3 linked regions of the Homo sapiens genome follow. The protein of the gene in region 2 purifies or fractionates together with the protein of the main gene of each other region. This does not show direct contact. Each region holds a gene or a part of one and is shown on either strand. Other genes may lie near its edges. The genes, in order: RUVBL2, OTUD5 and PPP2CA.

Region 1 (2,945 bases), on a different chromosome or scaffold from region 2:
GGTTTCACCATGTTGGCCGGGACGGTCTCATTCTCTTGACCTCGTGATCCACCCACCTCGGCCTCCCAAAGTGCTGGGATTACAGGTGTGAGCTACCGCGCCTGGCCTCATGTATGTGTGTTTCTATTTCCATGTGTTTGTTATGTAACATCACTGTTTATTCTCTAACATGGAGCTCGTGTCAACAGCATTCTAACTTGGGCTCAGCGAAGCGTCTGTAACATGGCATTTTCTCCGTCAGGCTTCACAGCCTCCTTGCACTTAGGATACTAGACAGCACTTCAACACTGTGCACAGGGGACACTTTAAATGGCAATATCACCAACAAATGGCCCCAAAAAGTTTAAAAAAAAAAGGCACAAAAAAAGTGACAACACTTTGGGAGGCTGAGGCGGGTGGATTGCTTGAGCCCAGGAGTTTGAGACCAGCCTGGGCAACATGGCAAAACACCATCTCTACAAAAAAAAAAAAAAAATTAGGCCGGACGCGGTGACTCACCCCTGTAATCTCAACACTTTGGGAGGCTGAGGTGGGCAGATCACGAGGTCAGGAGTTCGAGACCAGCCTGGCCAATATGGTGAAACCCTGTCTCTACTAAAAATACCAAAATTAGCTGGGCATGGTGGCGGGTGCCCATAATCCCAGCTACTCAGGAGGCTGAGGCAGGAAAACTGCTTGAACCCAGAAGGCAGAGGTTGCAGTGAGCCGAGATCGTGCCACTGCACTCCAGCCTGGTGACAGAGCTAGACTCCGTCTCAAAACAAAAACAGAAATTAGCTAGGCATAGTGGTGCATGCCCGTGGTCCCAGCTGATGAGGAGGCTGAGGCCAGAGGACTGATTGAGTCCCAGGGGTGGTGTGTGTGTGTGTGTGTGTGTGTGTGTGTGTGTGTGTGTGGTGGGCACTGAGGCTGCAGTGTGCCATGATCGTGCCTCTGCACTCCAGCCTGGGCGACAGAGCAAGACCCTGTCTCAAAGAACAAAAGTGACAAACGTAGCACTAAATAGAATACAACAAGGACACTTATTTACAGCATGAGCGCTAAGGGAGCAGGCAGTGTTGCCTCGTTCACACTCAGCTGGGAAAGTGGGTGTCAGGTGACTTGAATTTGTTGCCGAAAGCAGGGCAGATATTTATTTGGGGATTACAAATAAATCTTAGCAAGCGAGATTCTCAGATACAGAGTCTACGAACAATCAGGGCTGCCCGTAGCTGCTGCCTCCCACAGGAGGTGCCCCTGGGCAGTCCCCAGGCCCTGACCTGCAGTTTCTGTGAAAACACCATCAGCCCTGGGGGTCTCTTCCAGTGTCCAGCCATCCAGAGACCAAATTACGGCCCTGCTACCTTCTAGACTTGTGACCTGGGCAAGTCACTGGGCCTCACTGTCCTGCCCTATAAAATGGGGCTGAGGTGATATCTACCTTCTGAGCTTCTTCTGCGGATCCAAGGAGTTAAAAGAGCCAAACACAGAGCCAGGCCCAGCGGCCCAGCATCCTCTGTAGGGTGCCCGCTTCTTCCCTTTTGTGATGCCCATCCCAACCGCCCAGTTTCAGCTGGGCCCAAGGCTGCAGGGCTGGAGCTGACAGTACCCAGCCTTCTTTGCCACCAGGTACAGCACTGAGCCCAAGCAGTGCCGGGCAATGGAATGGGGGTGCAAGGTTGGGGTGCAGCCTGTGGATCACAGCCTATGGGGGCTGCCTGCCCTCCACATCCCCCTGCTTCCTGCGGGCCAAAATGTGGCGAGGTGGAGAAGACAGCCAGCGGGCATGGTGGCAGGTGCCCGTAATCCCAGCTACACAGGGTGCTGGCAACACCTGGGAGACGAGGTTCCCAGGCTTCAGCACAGCACAGTACCCTCTGTGTCACAGGAATCTGTCCCCGGCATCCTCAGGCCAAACACAACATTAAGAGTTCCCCGTGCACAGGGTGCTGGCAACACCTGGGAGATGAGGTTCCCAGGCTTCAGCAGAGCACGGTACCCTCTGTGTCATGGGAATCTGTCCCTGGCATCCTTAGGCCAAACACAACGCTAAGAGTTCTGTTAATGGAGTTGCTGGGTCGAAGTGACTGAACAATCGTAGTTTATGTTATGTCTAACAGATGTCACTGTGCTTCCCTCAAGACTAGAAAACATCCCACAGCACTCCTGTGAGTTTCCTGCAGCACCCTGGGGTGCCTCGGCACGCAGTTTGAAGACTGCAGCCTTGGGGGCTAAAGGAGCAGCAAGACAGAAAGGCAGCAAGAACACAGTCTCTGGGCTTCCTCGGGAAGCAGAGCTGCCTCCCACCCGCCTTTTGTAAGCAAAGAGCGCACACTGCAGTCACGCGTCCCTCCCTGACCCGGTGTCAACACAGGCTCCCATTGACCCTCTGACCACACCCACTGCCCAGAGCATCCTGTTTTCCCCAGAGGCCCCTGTAGCCGGCTCACCGCGTGATGCCACGGTTGGTGGCCATGATCAGGACAGGCGCCATGTCACTCTCCAGGGCCCGGTTGAGGAAGGAGAAGCTCTCGATGTCCAGCATGTGGACCTCGTCGATGAACAGCACCTTGGATTGGGGTGTGTGTGAGAGTCACCACCCGCGTCCCCACTTCCCCGGCCCACCTCCACCCCACCACCCGCCCCGGCCATGTCCTGGGTCCTCACTCCAGGGATGATCTCCGCCTTGCCCTCCTCGCGCCACTCAGCCACCTTGGCATTGATCTGCTCACGGACTTCTGACTTGATCTCCCCTGTGTCACCTATGGGAGGCACAGGTTGCATCAGGGAAGCCAGAGAGGAGGCGGGTTCCAGGGCCAGAGTGTGGCTAAGACAGAGAAGGATGATGCCAGGGATGGAGGAAGGGGAGCAAAGCAAGGAGGGATGAGGAGCCTGAAACATCCCCAAAGAGGAGGAACAGAGGCAGAGAACACAGGAGGGGAGAGGGCAGGGCCACACCCATCACA
Region 2 (3,653 bases):
GCGGATCACCTGAGGTCGGGAGTTTGAGACCAGCCTGACCAACATGGAGAAACCCCGTCTCTACTGAAAAATACAAAATTAGCCAGGTGTGGTGGTGCATGCCTGTAATCCCAGCTACTCGGGAGGCTGAGGCAGGAGAATCGCTTGAACCCGGGAGGCGGAGGTTGTGGTGAGCCAAGATCGCACCATTGCACTCCAGCCTGGGCAATAAGAGCAAAACTCTGTCTCAAGGAAAAAAAAAAAAAAGAAAAAAAGAAACACAGTCATTAAGGCTAGCACCTGAGAGGAGGTGCCACCTGACCAAAGGATTAAAACACCAAGACCTCCAAAAATGCTTGTTAACTGGATGAGAAATGAAGTCACTTCTGCCACGAAGTACCAGGAATGCCTGGAGCCCAGCAATGAATTCAGTAGAGCTAAAGTTCTGGGTAGTACTAGGCAGGTAAGCAGGGAGGACCAGGAAGAAAGATGAACTCATATTAACTGAATACCTGCCCCATGCCAGATGCAAAGGGTGACCTCGTTTAATTTTCCTGACCACAGCCCAGGTGGCAGGAAACATTACCCTCACTTTACAAAGGCAGAAAGGAGGCCAGACACGGTGGCTCACGCCTGTAATCCCAGCACTTTGGGAGGCCAAGGCGGAAGGATCATCTGAGGTTAGGAGTTTAAGACCAGCCTGGCCGACATGGCGAAGCCTTGTCTCTACTGAAAATACAAAAAATTAGCAGGGCGTGGTGGCGTGTGCCTGTAATCCCAGTTACTTGGGAGGCTGAGACAGGAGAATCGCTTGAACTCGGGAGGTGGAGGTTGCAGTGAGCCGAGATGGCACCATTGCACCCCAGCCAGCCTGGGCAACAGAGCAAGACTATGTCTCAAAAACAAAAACAAAAACAAAACAAAAAACAAAAAAACAAAGGCAGAAAGAGAAAGGAGCTGGAGTTTGGATACCAGCAAAGCCTAGTGTAGAGGCAACAGGGAAGGCCCCCACGAGCCACAGCATGGAGGACATACCTTGCAGCCCATCCACAGAATATCCTGGTTTGTCTCTAAACATGAAAGAGACCTGAATAGGCCCCTCGCACTGCAGGGTTTGGGTCCTGGGGCAGTCAAACTGGCATCCAGGCTTGGATCTAGAGGCTGGACTGCTAGCCACCCACTGGCTTTGTCATCAGCAGCCTGAGGAGTTTGGGCTCTGGCCCTTCTCTTTCTCCTTTTGGGGAGAAAATGTTGCTCAGGAAGGGCTAGTAGGGGTGGGGGGTAGGGGATAGCTCAGCCATAGATAAGTTTAAGCTCCAACAATGCCCTGGCCTGAGGAGATTGTGAACCTTGCAAACTCATCGCTGAGCCTATGGGAAAATCCCTCCATATCTTTGAGCCTCCACAAAAAGGCTGAGTAAAGCTCCCTAACACCAGAGGATCCCAGGAGCTGAGGCAAGATTCTGTAACCTAGTGGTCTAAGGGCCCAAGTGAAGTTGGAGCAGGCTGTGGAACCCAACTGACTTAGGTTCCAATCTAGCTCCACCAATTATTAGCCATGTGATGATGAACTGCTCTGAGCCACAGTTTTCCAATCTGTGAATGGGGATACCAAGCCTCCCAATAATAGGGATGCTGGGCAGACTCAAATATTACAGGGCTTTGCCCAGTAAGAGACCACTTAATGAGTTCCCTTCCCTTCCCCAGGAGGGAAAAAAGCCTCTCTAGTAGGCTGATTAATAGCCACGCAAAGATATCAAACCCTAACCCCCCTGGAACTTGTAAATGTTACCTTATAATGAAAAAGGTAGGGCCAGGCGTCGTGGCTCATGCCTGCAATCCCAGCACTTTGGGAGGCTAAGGCAGGCAGATCGCTTTGAGCTCAAGAGTTCAAGACTAGCCTGGGCAACATGGTGAAATCTCATCTCTACAAAAAATACAGGCCAGGTACGGTGATTCACGCCTGTAATCGCGGCACTCTGGGAGGCCGAGGCGGGTGGATCACCTGAGGTCAGGAGTTCGAGACCAGCCTGGCCAACATGGTGAAACCCTATCTCTACTAAAAATACAAAAATTAGCTGGTCATGGTAGCAGGCGCCTGTAATCCCAACTACTCAGGAGGCTGAGGCAGGAGAATCGCTGGAACCTGGGAGGCGAAGGTTGCAGTGAGCCGAGATAGCACCACTGCACTCCAGCCTGGGTGACACAGCGAGACTCCATCTCAAAAACAAATAAATAAACACCAAAAATTAACCGGGCATGGTGGCTCGCACCTGTGGTCCCAGCTACTCAGGAGGCTGAGGCTGGAGGATCACTTGAGTCCAGGAAGTGGAGGGTGCAGTGAGCCAAGATTACGCCACTGCACTCCAGCCTGGGTGACAGAGGCCAGCACTGTCTGAAAAGAAAAGAAAAGCCCGGGCACAGTGGCTCATGCCTGTAATCCCAGCACTTTGGGAGGCCGAGGCGGGTGGATCAACTAAGGTCAGGAGTTTGAAACCAGCCTGGCCAACATGGCAAAACCCCATCTCTACTAAAAATACAAAAATTAGCCAGGTGTGGTGGTGGGCGCCTGCAATCCCAGCTACTCAGGAGGGTGAGGCAGGAGAATAGCTTGAACCCAGGAGGCGGAGGTTGCGGTGAGCCGAGACTGCGCCTGGGTGACAGAGTGAGATTCCACCTCAAAAAAAAAAAAAAAAAGAGAAGAGAAAAGAAAAAAAGTGTTTGCAGATGTAATTAACTTACATTATTAAATCTGGAGATGGGGGGTTATCTTAGAGTATCAGGTAGGACCTAAATGCAATCACAAGTGTCCTTATAAAAGAGAGACAGAGGGAAATTTGATACAGACAGAAAAGGAAACCACATATACAGAGAAGGCGATGGTGAAGATGGAGGCAGAGATTAGAATGATGCAGTCATAAACCAAGGAATGTTGGCAGCCACGAGAGGCTAGAGAAGGTCTAAATTCTCCCTGAGAGCTTCCAGAAGGAGTGTGGCCCTGCCAACACTTTGATTTGGATGCAGTGAAACTGATTGTGGACTTCTGGCCTCCAGAATTGTGACAGAATAAACTTCTCTCTCTCTTTTTTTTTTTTTTTTTTTTTTTGAGATGGAGTCTCGCTCTGTCACCCAGGCTGGAGTGCAGTGGCGCAATCTCAGCTTACTGCAACCCCCACCTCACTGCAACCTCCAATCCGTCTCCTGGGTTCAAGCAATTCTCTGCCTCAGCCTCCCGAGTAGCTGGGATTACAGGCACCCACCACCACACCCAGCTAATTTTTATATTTTTAGTAGAGATGGGGTTTTACTATCTTGGCCAGGCTGGTCTTGAACTCCTGACCTCGTGATCCACCCGCCTCGGCCTCCCAAAGTGCTGGGATTACAGGGGTGAGCCACCGCACCCGGCCAACTTCTGTTGTTTTAAACCACCCAGTCTGTGGTAACATTTGTCACAACAGCCACAGGAAACTAACACACCCCCCTTGGTAGCACTCCTTGGTGTCTGTTCCCTAGTGCCTCACAGGTGTGAGACAATATGGCATGGATCCCGCTCTGCAAGGTCCACCTGCCTACCATCCTCCAGGGTGGGAGGTTAGAATTAAGGCAGCAGGGGCCTGGAATCTCCCTTCTCACCCTGGGAAACTACTGACCCTGCCTATGGATGGATGAGCTGC
Region 3 (3,653 bases), on a different chromosome or scaffold from region 2:
AAAATTCAAGAAACTTTCTATAGAAAAAAATGCAGTTACAATTTTGTTGAAAAAACAGCACACATCCTCATATCATAGTGAACCAAAACCACAGCTCTACAGAATTTTTAAATGCCCATGGGGTGTTTGCCCACCTCATCTCAACTAAAATCAAACTCCCTCTACCACCAACTTTATACCAAACATAAATCAATGGGCTATTAAAACCCCATAAATTACTTTACGGTTCAGTAATTTTTCACAAATTTATAGTTATGCAACAATCACCACAATCCAGTTTTAGAACCTTTCCATTATCCCAAAAAGATCCCTCCTGCAGTCACTCTCCACTCCCACTCCAGCTCCTGGCAACCACTGATTTACTGTCTTGAGTTTGTCTTTTCTAGAAATGTCATATAAATGGAATACAAAATGTAGTCTTTTGGCTAAATATCACTTAGAATATTTTTGAGGCTCACCCATGTTCTGGCATAGATCAGTGGTTTGTTCCTTTTCATAGTTGCACAGTCCTTCACTGTATGGCTATACCATTTTTTGTTTCTCTATTCACAGTTAAGATGAACTGGCAATTATGTTACTGAGGTTTTTGGCTACTATGAATAATGTTGCTATAATCATATACATGGAAGTTTTTCTGTGGACATATGCTTTCATTTCTTTTAGGAAGATTCCTAAGAATATAATTGTTGGATCACCTGGTAACGTTTAACTTTTTGAGAAACAGTCAAACTGTTTTTCAAAGTAGCTAGACCATGTTATATTCCCACCAGCAATGCATGAAGAGTTTAATCTCCGGTATTAACCAACACTTGGTATTATCAACCTTACTGATTACAGCCATTCTAATAGATGTGAAGTAGTAACTCAGTTACTTTAATTTGCATTTCCCTGATTACAATTGATATCAAGCATCTTTTCATGTGCTCACTGACCACTCATGTATCATCTTCTTGGGTAAAATATCTATTCAAATATTTTGCCCATTTTACAATTATCTGTCTTGTTATTGAGCTGTAAAAGTTTTTTTTTTTTAAATATCTGAATACAAGTACTTTTTTTCTGGTGTCATCTTTTGAAAAAACATAATCTTAATTTTGATAAAGTCCGATTTTTCAATTTTTTATGGACTGTGCTTTTGTTATATCTAAGAATCTTTAACTAACCTGACAAAGATTTTCTGATTTATTCTAGAAGTTTTGTAGCTTTAGCTCTTACATTTAGTTCTATGATACATTCTGATCCATTTGCTTCAGCACCATTTACTGAAAGAAACATCCTTTCCCCCGGTATTCTTTTGCTAAGGCTGCCACAACAAAGCATCAGAGAATAGGTGGCTTAAACAACAGAAATTTACTTCCTCACTGTTCCAGAGGCAGAAGTCCAAGATCAAGGTGTCAGCACAGTTGGTTTCTTCTGATGGCCTCTCTCCTTGATTTATGGATGCTCATCTTCTCCATCTGTCTTATCTTCTCCCCATCTGTGTCCTAATCTCTAATAAGGATACCACTTACACTGGATTAGGGTCCAACCATGTGACCCCACTTTACCTTAATTACCTGTCCAAATACAGTCACATTCTGAGGTGCTGTGGGTTAGGACTTAGACAAATGAATTTTGGGGGCTACAATTCAGCCCATTAACCTCCATGAGTAAGTTTTTTTCCCCCCAGATAGGATCTCACTCTGTCGCCCAGGCTCAAATGCAGTGGAGTAGCTCACCGCAGCCTGAAATTCCTAGGCTCAAGCAATCCTCCCACCTCAGCCTCCAGAGTGGCTAGGACTACAGCACATGTCACCATGTCTGGCTAAAATTGTTTTCTGAAGAGATGGGGTCTCACTAGGTTGCCCAGGCTGCTTGCATACTCTTAAAGGTAGCACATTCATTCCTCTGAGCACTGGGATTCATCCTGGGTTTTTAGCACAGGTTAGCTCTTTTCATAGTATTTGGAGTCACCGCAGAAACCTTCCACCATCTAGTCCAACTCCTTCATTTTACAGATGCAGAAAATAACGATCTCCAAAAATATTTCGTAGGACTTTACACAATTCAGATATTAATCAAGAAAATTCAGCTCACGCTAAAACCACATCTCACTGCTTCTCTAATATTAGGAAAGTCTGTGACAGCCATTTATCATTTTGAATATTCTTTAATAATAAAAATCAGTCTGTTGCCTAGGGGGGAAAAAATCTCCCCAAGATTTTTGGGTAAAGGTAAAGTCAAACAATTTATTTAAAGGGAAAGGCGGAAGCCTGCCACCCTAACAGCTCTTTACCATCTTTTGCTTCATGTTCAGATCATCATCAGTACACTTTGCAAAGCTACAATTGGCATGTAATGCATGTAATTTTGGAACTTGCTTTTTTCGGTTATCATTTCTACCATTCTAGATTTTTGTTTTTTAAAGACACAGGGGTCTTGCTCTGTCACACGGCTGGAGTGCAGTGGTGCATCATGGCTCACTGTAGCCTTGACCTCCCAGGTTCAAGTGATCCTCCCACCTCAGCTTCCTGAGTAGCTGAGACTACAAGCATGCACCACTGCACCTGGCTATTTTTTTTAACTTTTTGTAGAGATGGGGTTTATGTTGACTACGCTGTTCTTAAACTCCTGGACTCAAGTGATCCTTCCCGCCTTCCCCAGCCTCCCAAAGTGTTGAGATAACAGGCGTGAACCACTGCACCCAGCCTAGTCTAGATTATTACTGTCATGGTTAATGGCTGGAAACTATTCAACTGAGCTAAACCATATGTACATACATAATGTATGTAATGTACATAATATTCTCTGTTAAATATTTACAGCAAATGTTTTCTTGAATTTCTCAGAAAAATTCTTTTTTTTCTTGAACTTCTTCCTCGATATTTTTTTTTTTTTTTGAGACAGGGTCTCATTGTTCCCCAAGTTAGAGTGTAGGGTGGCAAGATCAAGTCTCATTGCAGCCACGACCTCCTGGGCTCAGGCAACTCTGCCCACCTCAGCCTGAGTAGCTGGGACTACAGGCCTGTGCCACCACACTCGGTTAATTATTATTATTTTTTTGTAGACAAGGTCTCACTATGTTGCCCAGGCTGGTCACAAACTCTTGGACTCAAGCAATATGCTCACTTTGTCCTGTCCTCCCAAAGTGCTGGGATTATAGCCACGAGCCACCGTGACCAGCTGATTTAAAACATTTTGACATTTGGTATGTTTATATATTTATAATACTTCAAAAGTATCTAAAAACACAAATCTAATTATATTACCTCTCCATACCCCAATTTACTGAACTAAAATATCTATTTGACCAGCCCTCTAACATTTTTCTTTTCCTTTTTTTTTTTTTGAGACAGTCTCGCTCTGTTGTCCAGGCTGGCGTGTAGTGGCGCAATCTCAGCTCACTGCAACCTCCGCCTCCCAGGTTCAAGCAATTCTCCTGCCTCAGGCTCCAGAGTAGCTGGGATTACAGGCACCCGCCACCACCCCCGGCTAGTTTTTTGTACTTTTAGTAGAGATGGGGCTTCACCATGTTCTCCAGGCTGGTCTCGAACTCCTGACCTCAGGTGATCTGCCTACCTCAGCGTCCCAAAGTGCTGGGATTACAGGCATAAGCCATCACGCCCAGCCTATTTTTTCAAACAATCTGACTGAGGCATTCATTCTCCTCCTTT

What was found.
Region 1: the proteins of OTUD5 (region 2) and RUVBL2 purify together in Homo sapiens (affinity purification with mass spectrometry, with the first as the bait; 3 studies listed by BioGRID). This does not show direct contact.
Region 3: the proteins of OTUD5 (region 2) and PPP2CA purify together in Homo sapiens (affinity purification with mass spectrometry, with the first as the bait; 3 studies listed by BioGRID). This does not show direct contact.

What each region holds. Positions count from the first base shown.
Region 1 is NC_000019.10:49,010,795-49,013,739, reverse strand, and holds part of RUVBL2 (ruvB-like 2), read right to left. Parts: intron 2,742-2,945; coding exon 2,647-2,741; intron 2,549-2,646; coding exon 2,430-2,548; intron 1-2,429. UniProt on the Homo sapiens protein: Possesses single-stranded DNA-stimulated ATPase and ATP-dependent DNA helicase (5' to 3') activity; hexamerization is thought to be critical for ATP hydrolysis and adjacent subunits in the ring-like structure contribute to the ATPase activity.
Region 2 is NC_000023.11:48,947,476-48,951,128, forward strand, and holds part of OTUD5 (OTU domain-containing protein 5), read right to left. Parts: intron 1-3,653. UniProt on the Homo sapiens protein: Deubiquitinating enzyme that functions as a negative regulator of the innate immune system. Has peptidase activity towards 'Lys-48'- and 'Lys-63'-linked polyubiquitin chains. Can also cleave 'Lys-11'-linked ubiquitin chains (in vitro).
Region 3 is NC_000005.10:134,202,074-134,205,726, forward strand, and holds part of PPP2CA (serine/threonine-protein phosphatase 2A catalytic subunit alpha isoform), read right to left. Parts: intron 1-3,653. UniProt on the Homo sapiens protein: Catalytic subunit of protein phosphatase 2A (PP2A), a serine/threonine phosphatase involved in the regulation of a wide variety of enzymes, signal transduction pathways, and cellular events.